Regions from separate parts of the Homo sapiens genome. Here region 2 is linked to region 1. Evidence: fine-mapped expression QTL. Tissue or cell type: whole blood. Region 1 holds a variant in brackets; the other region holds the start of a gene. All regions are shown on one strand. Distances are between the middles of the regions.

Region 1 (8,217 bases):
ATTGAGAAACGATAAATAGCTCTGCTCTGTGAGGTCTCAAAGATTCATTTCTAGATGTTTATTTAAGGAGATAAAATTTTATTAGGTGATATTTTACTTTATGTATATTAGTCATAGTTTTCTGTAGGAGGTAGGGTATGAAAAATGGGCCATATATAAGCAAACCTGGAATAAGAGTCAGGTGCTCATGAAGTAAGAATTACAGTACATTCACTCATTAAATGGCTCCTGAGCATTTTTCTTGTGCCTGGTATTCTGCTGTGGGTAAATGAGAAAGACCTACATTTGAGATTTTTTTCTTTCAAGAAATTTCACATTTTTAGTGAGAAAAAACAAGTCATATAAAAATGGAGCACTTAATTCTTCAACTGTTATTTGTAGTATCGCCCAAGACGAGTGACACTGACAGGAAAAATATGGTGAGGAGAAAGTCAACGGGCTTGGAGTGGTTAAAGTAGGACGAATATTCATTGGTTGAGTAGTTGGAATTTGAACTGGACCTTGAAAGTTGGGTAGAATTTAAATGAGTGAAGAAGAGCTAGGAAATAATTTCATTAAGGAAATAAATATAGCTAAGATGGGACAAGCATAGCATTTCTAATGCCATACCATTGTTTTTATAATTAACGTAGCATAAAGACACAAACGCACTTCCCCCTACTGTTTTCAAGGATAATCCAGTGTCTACACCTAAGGTAAGAGATCTATAGCCAAATTATTATATTCTTGTATTATAATCTCCTACTGTCAAGAGAAGGCCCACCATGTCTTTTTAGAAAAAAACTTACTAAGAACAGTATCTGTATGATTTGGAGATGGGTGCCAACATGAAAGTCTTATTTCTCGGTATGGCCAATAATTAAAAAGAGAAATTAGAAGATTCTCAGCTAGAAAGCTATGTAGACACCAATATTATTTATTTTCTCAGAAATATTCCCTAAGGATGAACATGAGAAGAAACCTCCCATAGAATAATAAGTATAGTATCCTGTAACTCTCCTTCTGGTCCCCTACCTTCTCCATATTATGCTAATTACCGGATAGATACTTAGATCTTAGTGTAGTGTTTTTCTCACTCCCTTCCTATCCTCTCACATTTCTACTTCTTCGTTTTTGCTGTATCAAGTGACCTATGAAATAGAAACTGACTTCAGATAATTTTAATTTCTTCATAGTTCAGCTTCATAATAGTAAATATCTAAATTTTTGAAGAAAGTTGATCATTTAGAAGTTATGTCTTTTTTAGGACTCAAATCCAAAAGCATGAAGCAACAGCTAAGCAAGAACTAATGGCTAAATTATCAACTTGGAAAACTGGAAAATCTGGATGGCAGAGAAATATACTATCTATCTCACCAGTATTTGCTCTCGACTCAAGAAGGTTAACATTTTCTGATTCATGTTAGACTTTGAAGAGACTAAAGAAAATTTTCAAGAGGAACATATGCCTGAGAACCTTTGCATGAATTTAAAATTTCAATTATCCATTCTTATAAGAAGGAAGATGATTGTAAAGAAATATCTCCGAAGTTAAAATCTGTAATAGGAATTGATTCATTCTCTAATGAAAACAAAACATAAAAACATCACACTAATCTTGGAGGAATAAGAAAAATTGTACATCCATTAAATGTACAATTGATTGCAACATCTTGATTGTTTTAACCATTAACTTGTCAAATTACAATCACAGTTAAGAAAATGATGTAAAATTCTGTTTTGTGGATCTCTTTCCTAGATTAGCTTCTGAAATCATTATTAGCTATATCATTTGAGGTTTTCTACAATTTGGTATAACTAAGAATTTAAAAATGTTTTATCATATATATTTGTATAATTAATTACTGGCATGGTTAAAGTGGTTTTCACTTTTTAAATGGAGAAAATTTCAGTTAAATTAATAGGATAAACCAGGTTGCGAACTGGTGACCTGTAGGCCATGTTTGCACTGCAAATATATTTGGTCTGAATGATATTGATATTGGACACATAGTACTTTTACATGTTTTGAATGTATTGCTAATATTTAAAAATTGAGAGATCTTGCATAAACAATAGATTCCCAGCTTTGTCAGATGTAATCTAAAAGTAATCCGATGCTTTGTCAACAACAGACTTACATTGCCCATAGCAACCGTCAGCTTAGTTGATGGGTAATGTAGCAAACACTATTGGTTTCCTACCAAATAATCCCCTTTTTCCTGGCTTTTAGAACAATAATTTTGTTCACCTGCCCACTTCTAGGAAAGAATATCCTATCTAATCTATCTATCTCAGGGATAAATCCCTATCCTTTTAAGTAAGTCAAGTCAATTAAAATAACCTCATTTTTCCTTGCTAGTGGTCGACTTGGAGATGATTTTATAATCCTCCCCCTCCCTTTTTTTTTTTGCTAGTAAGACGACAGAGGAATTATGTTACAACACTTCTGGAAAATTTTTCCTCGTCTCTTTTTCTGGATATGGGCATCTGAATACTCTAGCTGGTACTGCTGCGCTCCACACGGTGATTATGAAGGCTGAAAAAGATAGATAGAGCAGAAAGATGAAAAGAATAAAACCTGGCCTTTCAATGATGTCATGGAATTGGTAGATCAGTGACTGCTGGAGTTACCTCACACTTTCTTGGTACTCCTTATTATATGAGCCATACATTTTCCTTGTTGTTTAAGCCATTTTGAATTGGATTTTCTCTCACTTTCAACAGAGATCATCCTAACTAGTAAAGTAGCTGTTTCCATAATCAGGGAACATGCTTTAGTTCATCATCACAGCTACAGTTTTTCTTGTATTTGTCTGCTTCACCCATTTCTATCAATCACTTACCTGGTCCCCACAGGCCTGTCGCTTCATGAGGAACTTTATGGTTCATTTACCCTTGCAGTATGAGGTTCTAGATAAGCCCACTCTGGCCTCAAAAGTGAAGCTCAGTCCTCAGGAAATCCAGAGTCCACTGATCAAATCACTGTCAAGGATACAGGCTTTTTCTCCATGTGGCATTTGCAGAAGAACAACTTTAAAAGTAGAGCTTTATCTGCCCTGTGAGGTTTCAGAAGACCCTCCCCTGACCCAGAAATAAATCCCTATTTCCTGGAAAGCCATTATGTACTCGTGACCAACTTGTGAACTTTTCTGTGTTGTTGTTGTTGTTTTTTAAATATCTGTCCCCAGTAATAGATTCACCTAATCCTTTTTTATACTGATGGAATGGAAATCTTAAATCTATGAATCCTCAACTAGCCATGTACCATAACCCAAGCAAAAACTAAACCATACACTCTCAAAAGCAGTGGCATGTGAACATGCCTGCAAGTTCCTAAATGATGTCACTAGGTCCCTGATGCAGATGCATCATACGTCCTATTTGAAGAGAAGAAATGCAGTACAATGACAGGAAAACCATTATTTTATCATAGAACTGCGAACCCAAGTCCTACAATGTTTCCCTTTCAGCTCAACTGCAGAATAGTTTAGAACAGACTTTTTGATTTCACAATACTGTTTCCACACTTACTTATATCCGTAACTTTCTAACTTTAAGGGAATTCCGCTTATTTGACATTTAACTACCTCAGATATGCCACCAAACCTGTTTTCATCATTAGTTATTTTTACCTTGTCTACTTTAAAACAGTGAAATTATTAGGTTAAATTATGTTTTTATCCAGTTACTCTAAGATACCTTAGTGTTTGTCTACTTATTACAACTCACCAAATTACTGGTTTTATATGGCCTTTGGGAAGGCTTTTAGCTTTTTATAAAATAATGAAGTATGCATGAAAAGAAAGCAAATTTTAGTTGGTTGCAGTCAGAGAATATGGAAAGGGTTATTATTATAATTAGGATTTTATTATTCACATTGGAAATCACTGCTATGTGTTAAGGAATTGAAGGTGGCCTCTGGCTAGCAGCCATTAAGAAAATGAGCCCCTGAGTTCAACGACCCTCAAATGAAGTGAAGTCTACCAATAACCACTGAATAAGCTTGGAATTTTAGATTCCTTCCCAGCTGAATCTTGACTTCAGCCTTGTGAGACACCCTGAAGTAGAGGATGCAGCTAAATTTTGTCCAGATTACACACCCACAGAAACTGTATGATAATTAATATGTGTTGTTTAAAGTTGTTATGGTTTGGAGATATTTGTTATGCAGCAATAGATAGCTGATACAAGGAAGTAGAGAACAAACATTTTCTATTAGTCTGTTTTCACATGGCTATAAAGAATACCACCTGAGACTGGGTAATTTATAAAGAAAGGAGGATTAATTGACTCAGATTTCCA[C/A]ATGGCCTAGGAGGCCTCAGGAAACTTACAATCATGATGAAAGAGGAAGCAGAAACATCTCATATGATGGAAGATGTGTATGAAGGAGGAACTGTCAAACACTTATAAAACCATCAGATCTCTTGAGAGCTTACTATCTCGACAAAAGCATGGGGGAAACCACCCCCATGATCCAATCACCTCCCACCTGGTCCCTCCCTCAACATGTGGAGATTATAGCAATTAAAAAAATGAGATTTGGGGGGATGGACACAGAGCCAAACCATATAATGTTTTAAATGCTCCAGATAGGTTTAGGTAAAATTAACTATATTTAATAGGCTTTCATCACTGCAAAACTTTTTTTCCTTTCTTTGTGTCTCTAGTCTCTTCCATTTGTTCTCCCTTCTTTACTAGCACCGAGGATTTGCTTGAAATCTCTGATAGCCAGTATTCTCATTTATCATATTCTTTCTCACTTTGTGTTTCCTTGGTAATTTTGGATAACTCCTTAAATTTATCTTCCAAATTACTGGTTTTTATATTCTGTACTGTCAGTCCTCCTGTTCACTAATTTCAAAATTTATAGTTGTTTCTCTTGTTTACTTATATAGTTGTTTCTCTTGTTTACTTAATAACATTCTCTTCTTTCCTATCAGTTTAATTTTATAAAGGCTAACCAATTAACTGTTTTTAACTTATATTTCCAGATATTTTAAAAATTAAAGCAAAATGTGTATAAACTTTATTACTGCTTCCCACAGTAAATATTTTTCAGAAGTACATGCTTTCTCAGCCACTTGACTAGTATGTTCCCCATCATTCAAAGACACCATTATTTCCTAAGTGTTATATTGCTATTTTTCAGTTGGTGCATCCAATATTATTATCAGCTTTAATATTGTTTCATCATATGTCATTGTTCAAAGAATCCATCTCTTGAGCGTAAGCTAAATAATTTGCATACACTAGCATCTGGATGTAATATGGAAAAATATGGAAATGGTTGGGGTGATAAGCAAGTCTTGCATATTCTTTTCTCCTCAATTTTTTTTCTCCAAAGTGGGCCAAGCCAAGAGTGGCACAGCTGTGTGGAGATACTGAGCTCCACCTTGTCAGGGAAGATCCCAACTCAGGAGAAAACACCTCTAACAAAATCTGTAGCCACGTTGGCACATCTGCCCTTGAATTCACTTTGTCTCTTTTGCTGCTTCCATAAAAAGGCTTTCCCTTGACAATGTTAGGCACTTTTTAGCAACTAGGCCTGGGTGGTCTGCTACAATGCCCAACACTTAATACAGTATCACTATTACTGTTAGTAGTATGCTAAGCGAATACTATTGTTATAAAAAAAATCCTAAGCATGAAAATTACGGTATACAATTTATTGTGAAGGCAACTTCTTGTGAACATTAAACGGTTTATCTCCTTCACCTCATATTAAAGTCCATACTCTTGGGATATATCTGACATCTCAATATTAAATGACTAAGATGACTAAGTCGTTTATGTTGCTCCCACCTCACACAAAGTTAAAACTATTTGTTACTTTAAATAGTTTGACAATGTTATTTTAAAATCTGGACAAATCACAAATATAAAATACTTATTTAATTTTCTTCTGTAAAAAGATGTATGCTTGGTCAGGCACAGTGGCTGATGCCTATAATCCCAGCACTTTGGGAGGCTGAGGTGGGTGGATCACGAGGGTCAGGAGTTCGAGACCAGCCTGGCCAAGTTGATGAAACCTCATCTCTACCAATAATACAAAAATTAGCCAGGCAGGATGGCGGGCACCTGTAATCCCAGCTCTCAGGAGGCTGAGGCAGGAGAATCACTTGAACCCAGGGCACAGAGGTTTCAGTGAGCCAAGATCGTACCACCGCACTCTAGCCTGGGTGACAGAGCAAGACTGACTCCACCCAAAAAAAAAAAAAAAAAGCAAAAAGAACAAAGCTGGAGGCATCACACTACCTGACTTCAAACAATACTACAAGGCTACAGTAACCAAAGCAGCATGGTACTGGTACCAAAACAGAGAGACAAACCAATGGAACAGAACAGAGGCCTCAGAAGTAACACCAGACATCTCCAACCATCTGATCTTTGACAAACCTGACAAAAACAAGCAATGTGTAAAGGATTCCCTATTTAATAAATGGTGTTGGGAAAACTGGCTAGCCATATGCAGAAAACTGAAACTGGACCCTTTCCTTACACCTTATACAAAAATTAACTCAAGATGGATCAAAGACTCAGACGTAAGACCTAAAACCATAACTCCAGAAGTAAACCTAGGCAATACCATTCAGGACATAGGCATGGGCAAAGACTTCATGACTAAAACACCAAAAGCAATGGCAACAGACGCCAACATTGACAAATGGGATCTAATTAAACTAAAGAGCTTCTGCACAGCAAAAGAAACTATCAGAGTGAACAGGCAACCTACAAAATGGGAGACAATTTTTGCAATCTATCCATCTGACAAAGGGCTAATATCCAGAATCTACAAAGAACTTAAATTTACAAGAAAAAAAAAATCCCCCATCAAAAAGTAGGTGAAGGATATGAACAGACACTTTTCAAAAAAAGATATTTATGCAGCCAACAAACTATGAAAAAAAGCTCATCATCACTGGTCATTTGAGAAACGCAAATTAAAACCACGATGAGATACAATCTCATGCCAGTTAGAATGGTGATCCTTAAAAAGTCAGGAAAACAACAGATGCTGGAGAGGATGTGGAGAAACAGGAACACTTTTACACTGTTGGGAGTGTAAATTAGTTCAACCATTGTGAAAGACAATATGGCAATTCATTAAGGTTCTAGAACCAGAAATACCATTTGACCAAGCAATCCCATTACTGGGTTTATACCCAAAGGATTGTAAATCATTCTACTATAAAGACATATGCACACGTATGTTTATTGTGATACTGTTCACAAAGCAAAGACTTAGAACCAACCCAAGTGCCCATGAATGATACACTAGATAAAGAAAATTTGGCACATATACACCATGAAATACCACACAGCCATAAAAAAGGATGAGTTCACGTCCTATGCAGGGACATGAAAACCATCATTGTCAGCAAACTAACAGAGGAACAGAAAACCAAACACCACATGTTCTCACTTATAAGTGGGAGTTGAACAATGAGAACACACGGACCCAGGGAGAGGAACATCACATACCGGGGCCTGTTGCGGGGTGGGGGAGTAGGGGAGGGATAGCATTATGAGAAATACCTAATGTAGATGATGGGTGGGTGGGTGCAGCCAACCACCATGGCACATGTATACCTATAGTAACAAACCTTCACATTCTGCACATGTATCCCAGAACTGAAAGTATAATTTTTAAAAAATTTAAAAAACAATATATGCTTAATATAGAAAGGTTGAGAAACAAGAGAAAGTACTAAGACAAAAATTTTTCCTAATCTCACCAAGTATGATTTCAATCAACACTTGGAAATATGACCTTTTCCTCTCTTTTCTGTCTGGTATATAAGTTAAGTATTAATTCAATATTTATGCTATTTGTATTATGGCTTTTAATTTTACTTAGTAATATGACACAAATCTATAAGAATATTATGCAGCCATCAATACTATTTTATTAATGAATAATGTTTTACTTAATATCTGATTCAACAATGAAATCTTTTTTCAAAAATGTTTATGGCTAAAATAATGCAGTGATGAACAATGGTGTATATACCATCTAAAGGCAGTTCTCTGTATCACAGTTCGGGTTCCTGGGCAAGCAGAATCTGAGATGGATTTTAGCAGCCAGGAAGTTTATTATGGAGGGCTTTCAGGTCAGGTCCCCTATTTGTTTAATGGAATGGGAGAAAGCAGGATTAGGCTGGAGGAGTTGGGAATGATGCTGCCTCAAAGAAGGCTTTAGCTGGCCCAGCCAGCCCTGAACCTGGGCTATCCTTC
Region 2 (8,217 bases), 64 kb before region 1:
AAAAGGGAAAATTAAACTGACTGCCCAAATTCAACTTTTATGCTTACTTGATACAACTTTGAGGAAATAACCAGGGAAGCAGAAAATAAAATTCATTTAGAGATTGGTATAAATTCTTTGACAGTAAAGGGAATTATAACTCTGGGCTATGAAGAATGATGAAAAATTATGAGAATGATAACTGGAACAAACTGATCAAAGGCATGTCACGACTACAAGAGAATTGAAAAGAGCCGAAGAACAAGTGCCAATTTAAAATTCCACATGGATCAGCATGCAGACTGTCATCATTCACCATTTCCAGGGCACTCCCCTCCTCAAGAAGCAAGCAGGAAGGTTATACTTCTCATTCGATCCCATCAGTGGTGACCATTCACCACAGCGTCAAAGTCAAGCACAAATACTTAGCAGGATATCTTCCCATTCTCTCAGGCATTCTTTGCTCCAACAATTCCAAACACTACCAGCCATAAACTAATGTGCTATAATATATTGTCCTTATTTATTCTCATAATTCTTTTTTTCCAACTTTTATTTTAGATTCAAGGAGGTACATATCCATCTGTTACATGGATATATTCCGTGATGCTGAGGTTTAGGGTACAAATAATCCTGCCACCCGGGTACTCAGCATAGTATCCAATAGCTAGGTTTTCAGCCTTTTCCCCTCTTCCCTCCCTTCTCCAGCAGTACCCAGTGTCTATTGTTGTCATCTTTATGTCCATGGGTACACAGCGTTTAGCTCCCATGTATAATTGAGAACATGCAGTATTTATAGATTTTGGATATTAGACTTTTGTCAGCTGTGCAGTTTGCTTATATTTTCGCCCGTTATGTAGGTTGTTGGTTTGCTCTGCTGATAGTTTCTTTTTGCTGTACAGAAGCTCTTTAATTTAATTAGGTCCCACTTGTCCATTTTTGTTTTCATTGCAATTGCTTTTGAGGACTTAAGTCATAAATTGTTTCCAGGGCCAATGTCCAGAATGTCATTTCCTAGGTTTTCCATAGTTTGAGGTCTGACATTTAAATCTTTAATCCATCTTGAGTTAATTTTTGTATATGGTGTAAGGTACCGGTTTTCTGTTTCTGCATTAATTCACTTAGGTTAATGGCCTCTAGGTGATCCATGTGCTGCAAAGAACACAATTTAATTCTTTTTTATAGCTGCATAGTATTCCAAGGTATATATGTACCACATTGTATTTATCCATTCCACCACTGATGGGCACCTAGCTTGATTCCATGTCATTGCTCTTGTGGATAGTACTGTGATGAACATAAGCATGTGTCTTCTCGGTAGAATAATTTATTTTCTTTTGGCTATATATCCAGTAAACGGATTGTTCGGTCAAATGACAGTTCTGTTTTAATTTCTTTGAGAAATCTCCAAACTGCTTTCCAGAGTGGCTGAACTAATTTACATTCCTACCAACATTGTGTGTTTCCTTTTCTCTGTGGCCTCACCAGCATTTGTTATTTTTTGACTTTTTAGTAATAGCCATTTTGGCTGGTGTGAGTTGGTACCTCATTGTTTTGATTTGCATTTCTCTGATAATTAGTTATGTTGGGCAATTTTTTCACATGTTTTTTTAACTGCTTGTATTTCTTCTTTTGAGAAGTGTCTGTTCATTTCTTTTGACCCTTTTTTTTTTTTTTTTTCTTTTTTTTTGAGACGGAGTCTTGCTCTGTCACCCAGGCTGGAGTGCAGTGGCGCAGTCTTGGTTCACTGCAACCTCCTCCTCCGGGTTCAAGTGATTCTCCTGCCTCAGCCTCCCAAGTAGCTGGGACTACAGGTGCCTACCACACGTGGCTAATTTTTGTATTTTTAATAGAGATGGGGTTTCACTATGTTGGCTAGACTAGTCTCGAACTCTTGACTTCAGGTGATCTGCCCACCTTGGCCTCCCAGAGTGCTAGGATTACAGGCATGAGCCACTGCACCCACCCTTTTGCCCATTTTTAAATGAGGTTACTTATCTCATGCTTGTTCAATTGTTTAAGTTCTTTATAGATTCTGGATATTAGACTTTTGTCAGCTGTGTAGTTTGCTCATATTTTCACCCGTTATGTAGGTTGTTGGTTTGCTCTGCTGATAGTTTCTTTTTGCTCTACAGAAGCTCTTTAATTTAATTAGGTCCCACTCATCCATTTTTGTTTTCATTGCAATTGCTTTTGAGGACTTAAGTTATAAATTGTTTCCTAGGGCCAATGTCCAGAATGTCATTTTCTAGGTTTTCCATAATTTGAGGTCTTACATTTAAATCTTTAATCCATCTTGAGTTAATTTTTGTATATGGTGTAAGGTAGGGGTCCAGTTTTATTCTTCTGCATATGGCTAGCCAGCTATCCCAGCACCATTTATGAAATAGGGAGTCCTTTTCCCAGGACTCCTGCCACCAGGATGCACTCCCTGCCCTGTTTGGTGTAGACCTCTGACTTCTATTGATAAATCTATTGTAACACTAAACACCTTGTGATATTGTGATCATTTATAGGTGGTACTCACTCTGTGCAATTTTATGGTAATTGAACTTATCTTTGTCAGATTGTGAACATCTCAATGAAAGTGATTGTGTTTTTTGTTTGTTTGTTTGTTTGAGACACTGTCTCGCTCTGTTGCCCAGGCTGGAGTGTGTTGTTGCAATCTCAGCTCGCTGCAGCCTCTGCCTCCTGGGTTCAAGCAATCAAGCAGTTCTCCTACCTCAGCCTCCTGAGTAACTGGGATTACAGGTGACCACCACCACACCCAGCTAATTTTTTTTTTTTAGTAGAGATGGGGTTTCACCATGTTGGGCAGGCTGGTCTCAAATTCTGATCTCAGGTAGTCTGTCTGCCTCAGCCTCCCAAAGTGCTGGGATTACAGACATGAGCCACCACTCCCGGCCATGATTGTGTTTTTTCAACTGCAATCTCAGTGTCTGACACATAATAGCTGTAAGTAAAATTACGTTGAATTAATGGAGAAAAAATATGTAATAATTAAAAGTTGAAGTATCCTTTCTGTTCCCTGGAAAAGACAAAGCAATGGAACTTGGGTTGAAAAGGCAAGAAATCTGTGAATCGCAATCCTGATGGTTAAAATGCTCAGTAACTAGACTCAAAAATTCCTTTGTGGTTTTAGTTGATGACTGTATAATCATTTGGAGACATCAATAATCACTGTAATCCCTCTAGTATGAGAATGTGTTTCAGAATCTGTAAAATGATGCATGATTTTAGTGGACTAGGACTAGGTTTTGTGGTAATAACTGGTCCTCAGCGTAATTTCTATTCCTTAGGAATTTCATAATTATTTCTATTCTCCCAGAATCTTTTCAATAGAAATGATACTGGGAGTACAAGTCAGCTAAGCCAAGGGAAAGCATTAGAGTATATGACTAAGAGCCCAGACAACACATAGTTCAGATTCCACTTCTACCACTTACTGGATAGGTGACTTTATCTGCTTAATCTTCTTAATCTATACAATGAGGGGACAACTGATTCTTAATCTTTTGAATTTTGCCTTTAAAACCCCAAATTTTCACCTGCAAAATGATTGTAAATGCATAATACATGAGTATCATAAAGACTAATAAAATAACAAGTACAGTAGATTTAGGAGAGTACCTGTATTAGTCCATTTTCATACTATCACGAAGAAATATCTGAGACTGGGTAAATTAAAAAGAGGTTTCATGGCCTCACAGTTTCACATGGCTGGGGAGGCCTCACTCTCATGGTAGAAGGTGAAGGAGGAGCAAAGACACATCTTACATGGAGGCAGGCAAAGAGAGCCTGAGCAGGGGAACTGCCCTTTATAAAATCATTAGATCTTATGAGACTTATTCACTATAATGAGAACAGCATGGGAAAAGCCCGCCCCTTGATTCAATTATCTCCCACTGGGTCCCTCCCACAACACATGGGGATTATGGGAGCTACAATTCAAGATGAGATTCAGGTAGGGACACAACCAAACCCTATCAGTACCTAAAACTTAATAAGCAGCTCAGTTGATATTAGTTATTTTATTGGTTATAAGTATGATTTTTAGACATGCCCAGTTTAGCCTTACTACCACCAGTGACAGATCCTAAAATTGTATCCTTTGGGTCTTGAATCCTTCTTCCACACTCCTCATTGCCAGTTATGACACAAATACCCCCAAGGATCTAAAAATTATTGTGCTTATATTGTCAGACATTCTTATTTCAGGATAGTTCAAACTTCCTGAGAGTACACTTGTGTGAGGAATAGAACATAAAATAATGGAAAAGAGAATGCTATATAGTAATTAGGTTGAATTAGAAATTGCTTTACATAACCACATTATGTATGTGGGGGAAAAATAACATTCTTAATAACTTTTTTCCTACAACTGTATATATATAAAAATATATTTAAACATATATTTATATATCATATCCGTAATGTAAATAAATGTCTAGCATGTTTTTCAAGACTCATTAATGCAGTTGCCTCTTTCCTTGTAGCTTATCTGGCTATAGTAATATGTTGGAAATGTACTACTTTGGAGTGGGGAGTATGGCAAAGGAGAGCAAAACAATAGTTCAGATCAAGTAATCTTAGAGCCAGGAGGCAGCCAGGACTTCCGCCTGCTGGGCCATTGTTGCAGGACCACAGCTTCGAGGTTGCGCAACACCTTTAGTAAACACTTCCTGAATCAGAGACAAGAATGAACCAGGGAGTTTCATTCTGTCTCACTGGAGAGGAGGCAGGGACAGACCCAGCAGCACCCACCTGAGCGAGAAGAGCAGACACCGTGCTCCTGGAATCACCCAGCATGTTGCAAGGTCTCCTGCCAGTCAGTCTCCTCCTCTCTGTTGCAGGTACATATTTAGCTCTTTTTCAGGTTCTATTGAATGCATTAGCGAACTTTTCATAGTCTCCTAATAGTTTTATTGTATAAACTATTTTGACTTTTTTCTTTTTCTTTTTTCTCAATCAATCTTACTAACCAGTTGGGCTGGTTTTAACCTGTTGTTTGGGGGCTGCGAGTGATACAAAGACAATGTTAAAAAGAGGCAACAAGAGGTCTTGAACCAATATGTATGCATCTCATCTGAGAATATACAGAAATAAAAGGGACAATTTCATACAGCACAATTTAAATCATGAATATGATTTTTGACTGAAAAAGTGGAATTCATCAAAACCCAGCTTGTCATTTAAAGAATGGTAAAGATGTGGCAGATTTATTTATTTATTACTGTGTACAAGGCTTAGGAAAATACCTACTATTATTATGGGAGCCAGTTTGGCTCTTTCTGTTTGAGTGTATATTTTTGTATTTACTCATTATTAGTAATAATACGTGTGACTAACTGGAAATAATTAATATTTTTTATTTATAAGGTACTGTGATATTACTTAACAAAATATCTCTGTTAAGCTTAAATTGATAATTTACTTCTATTTTGCTGATTATACCAAACATTTAAAAATTTGAAAGGAGAAAAATACTACTTCCTAACAGGAAATTATGTCTAGCAAGTCTCTCAATTTCTGGTAAATTCTCTAATTAGACTTTGGTTAAATTAGATTGGGTATTGTGATTCTTCAGCTTCTATTTCCAGAGCTTATTTAACTCAGCACATGAACTGCAGTGCCTCGAATTCCTCCCAGTAAACCTGTTCTTGGGTCTTAGAATGTTTGCTGGGACCTGGGGATGGGAACAGATTATCAACTAGAGGTATGGGCTTAGGGAGGGAAAAGTTTTCCTTGTCCATGCACCCTCTTAGTACTTTGTTGCTAAAAATGATTTTCCTGTGTCTCACCTGTTTCTGATTTGTTTTCAAGACTTATAAAAATTTCACTTAACCTAATATCTTTAAATATCGAATTATTTTCCTTTTGTTTCTGTGTATTTTTGCTTTATATAATATGTACCTATATCTGAACTGAACCTTTTCCCACTGTGCTGTGATCCTCTTCATCTCTAATGCCTTTTGCTTTGATACCTATTTTGTCTGATGTGAACGTGTTACACCAGCTTTCTTTTGGTAAAATAAGCCTGAAATATTAAAAATATATATAAAACTCATGCCAGGCATTTAACATTGACCTGAAATTCCTACTTTTTGAGGCAGACTTAATAGAAATGTTTTTTTCTCTCCGTTCTCCAAAAATGCTATCACCAAGAGCTTTTCCAGAACCCCCTCTAAGCTGAAATACAAGAACTGCTTGGGCACTAGCTTAGTTGAAGAGCGTAAAGATCAAGCTGGATCCATTAACAGAGTCACATGGCTAACACTGGGGCCCATGCACATTACAGTCCTTTTGTGCAACTGGGCACACTAATCAGTTCTGCTGCCCCGACGGTGCATGTATAACATGGCACCAAGAGATGCAACTTCCTCTGATGTCAACTCTAAAAGTGTGATGTCACCCCTCCTTTAACTTCTAGCTTCTATTTTTAAGGGTGTCTTTTTGCCACTGAACTATCCCTGTTATGATTCCCATTTGGGTTGCCTTTCTAGTCAGAATATAAGAAGTAAAGCAATTTTCATTTCCCAGTTCTTCCTGTTTGTTCTCTGCCCCCATCATCAAAGCAATACATATGTGCCCCTCTGACCATGACTTCTGCCCAGTCCCCAGATGGTTGAAATAAAAGAAAGAGATGTAAAATAAGGCTGGTTGTGTGCAGTGAACTTCACAATCCCGAGAAAAAATTGACTTATGGGATTTCATCCTAGGAAAAGGAAAAACAAATATTTAAAAGGATGTGACAGGTGTTTGCGGGGTGAAGATGTAAATGATTGCATCAACAAAGGAGAAAGGTGCTTACCTTATTACAGCAGAATACTCAGGGGGTACAGCACTTTTTGAAATTATTTTATTTCAAACTACCAGTTCTTCCTTGCCTTTATAAGGTAACTGGAAGACTGAAAAGAAAATATACAGTTTAATCTAAATAGTCAAAATAACAGACCTAATAGAAATGCAGTTTTTTCCCTTTTGTTTGTACTCACTTTTAATGCATGAAGTTTAAAACCACAAGATGGTTTGAGGAGATGCAGAGAATCCCAGGACATAAGTCAATATCCTTGTGTAAACCCTAATTCAGCGTTTAATATGATGTGTTCAGTTTGGAAAGAAGACATTTCTTTGAACAGTTTCAAACACATTTGAACGAAAATGAAAATGTCAATATTACATACTCATGTTCCCATTTCCAAAATGACCCCAAACACATGAACAAATAATGTAGCAATCCAGACTAATGTCTCTCATATTAACGTTGTTAATGAGCTTTGGCTTTTCTAAGACTCAAAACAGTCAAAAATAATTATCCCATCTAAACCAAAATAACAGTTTTCTTTTTCCTGATCTGGTTTTGCTAGTCAAGACTAATCCAGTGTGTGAGTTCTGTGGGAGAGAGAAGGCAAGTATTAAAATGAATTAGTAAAAACATATTGTGTTACACCTTGGATTTGTGTAATCCCTGGATGGCAGTTAGTTGTGTTTGTTCCTCAGGCTTCAAAAATAATTAACGTGATGTTATTCAGTGGGGAAGACGCTGCACCATTTCCATTAAACTTAAGGATGGATGAGCTAAACAATATTTAGGTCTGTTACATCCCTACAATGGCTGTGTAATTTGTTGTATTCCAGATCCCATTATTTCAGGGACTTCTAGGTTTCCAGAAAATAAGAGCCTTTAAGAGAAATTCCATTTAGTTTCTTTAGAGAATATATGGAGTGACAGGAGTTTGGAAGGAGCTGGAATTCCATTCACTTCAAACTGAAGAGATTGAGAGGTTGCCAATGATTTCTAAAAGAAATGTTGTGGGTTTTTTTTTGTTGTTGTTGTTGTTTGTTTTATTTTGCTTTGTTTTTGGTTTCCATTTGGAAGTGTTCGGCCACCAAAAAGTTGGAAATAAATTACATAACTTACATATTTTAAGCCCATATTTAAGAGCCAGTTTGCAATTTCTAATTTCATGAAACATTGGGATTCAGATACTAACTAGAAGCATAGAGGTCAGGGTGCATGTGAGAGAAAATTTGTGTTGGCTAGATGAGCCTGTTTTCCTTCTTACCATTTCTGAATGGTGCTGAGAAGGAAACTCACTTCATTTTCTGCTTTTATACAAAAAATCGGGAACGTAGCTATTATTTTATTCCACGAAGGCAGCTTGGACTACTATTTCCTGTTAGAATCATGTGTGTTCTAATATAGCATTTAAAAAGATTTATGTTGGCTGCAACATT

Evidence for each region. PIP is the estimated chance that this variant, and not a neighbour inherited with it, causes the effect.
Region 2: it holds the start of ADAM28, and the variant in region 1 is fine-mapped to the expression of ADAM28 in whole blood (TOPMed, PIP above 0.99).

Annotation. Positions count from the first base shown.
Region 1 is chr8:24,353,138-24,361,354 of GRCh38, forward strand. ADAM28 (ADAM metallopeptidase domain 28) reads left to right here. Exons shown (of 23, transcript NM_014265.6): 22 at 633-695; 23 at 1,247-5,877. The coding sequence ends at 1,267. The region is part of intron 3 of ADAM7-AS1 (ADAM7, ADAMDEC1 and ADAM28 antisense RNA 1); the gene reads right to left. Among named protein-coding and RNA genes, the nearest start is that of ADAMDEC1, 27 kb to the right of the region's middle. The variant C/A (reference allele first, on the strand shown) is at 4,285.
Region 2 is chr8:24,289,364-24,297,580 of GRCh38, forward strand. ADAM28 (ADAM metallopeptidase domain 28) reads left to right here and starts at 4,706. Exons shown (of 23, transcript NM_014265.6): 1 at 4,706-4,832. The coding sequence starts at 4,787. It overlaps ADAM7-AS1 (ADAM7, ADAMDEC1 and ADAM28 antisense RNA 1), which reads right to left. Exons shown (of 6, transcript NR_125808.1): 5 at 6,791-6,887; 6 at 6,451-6,694.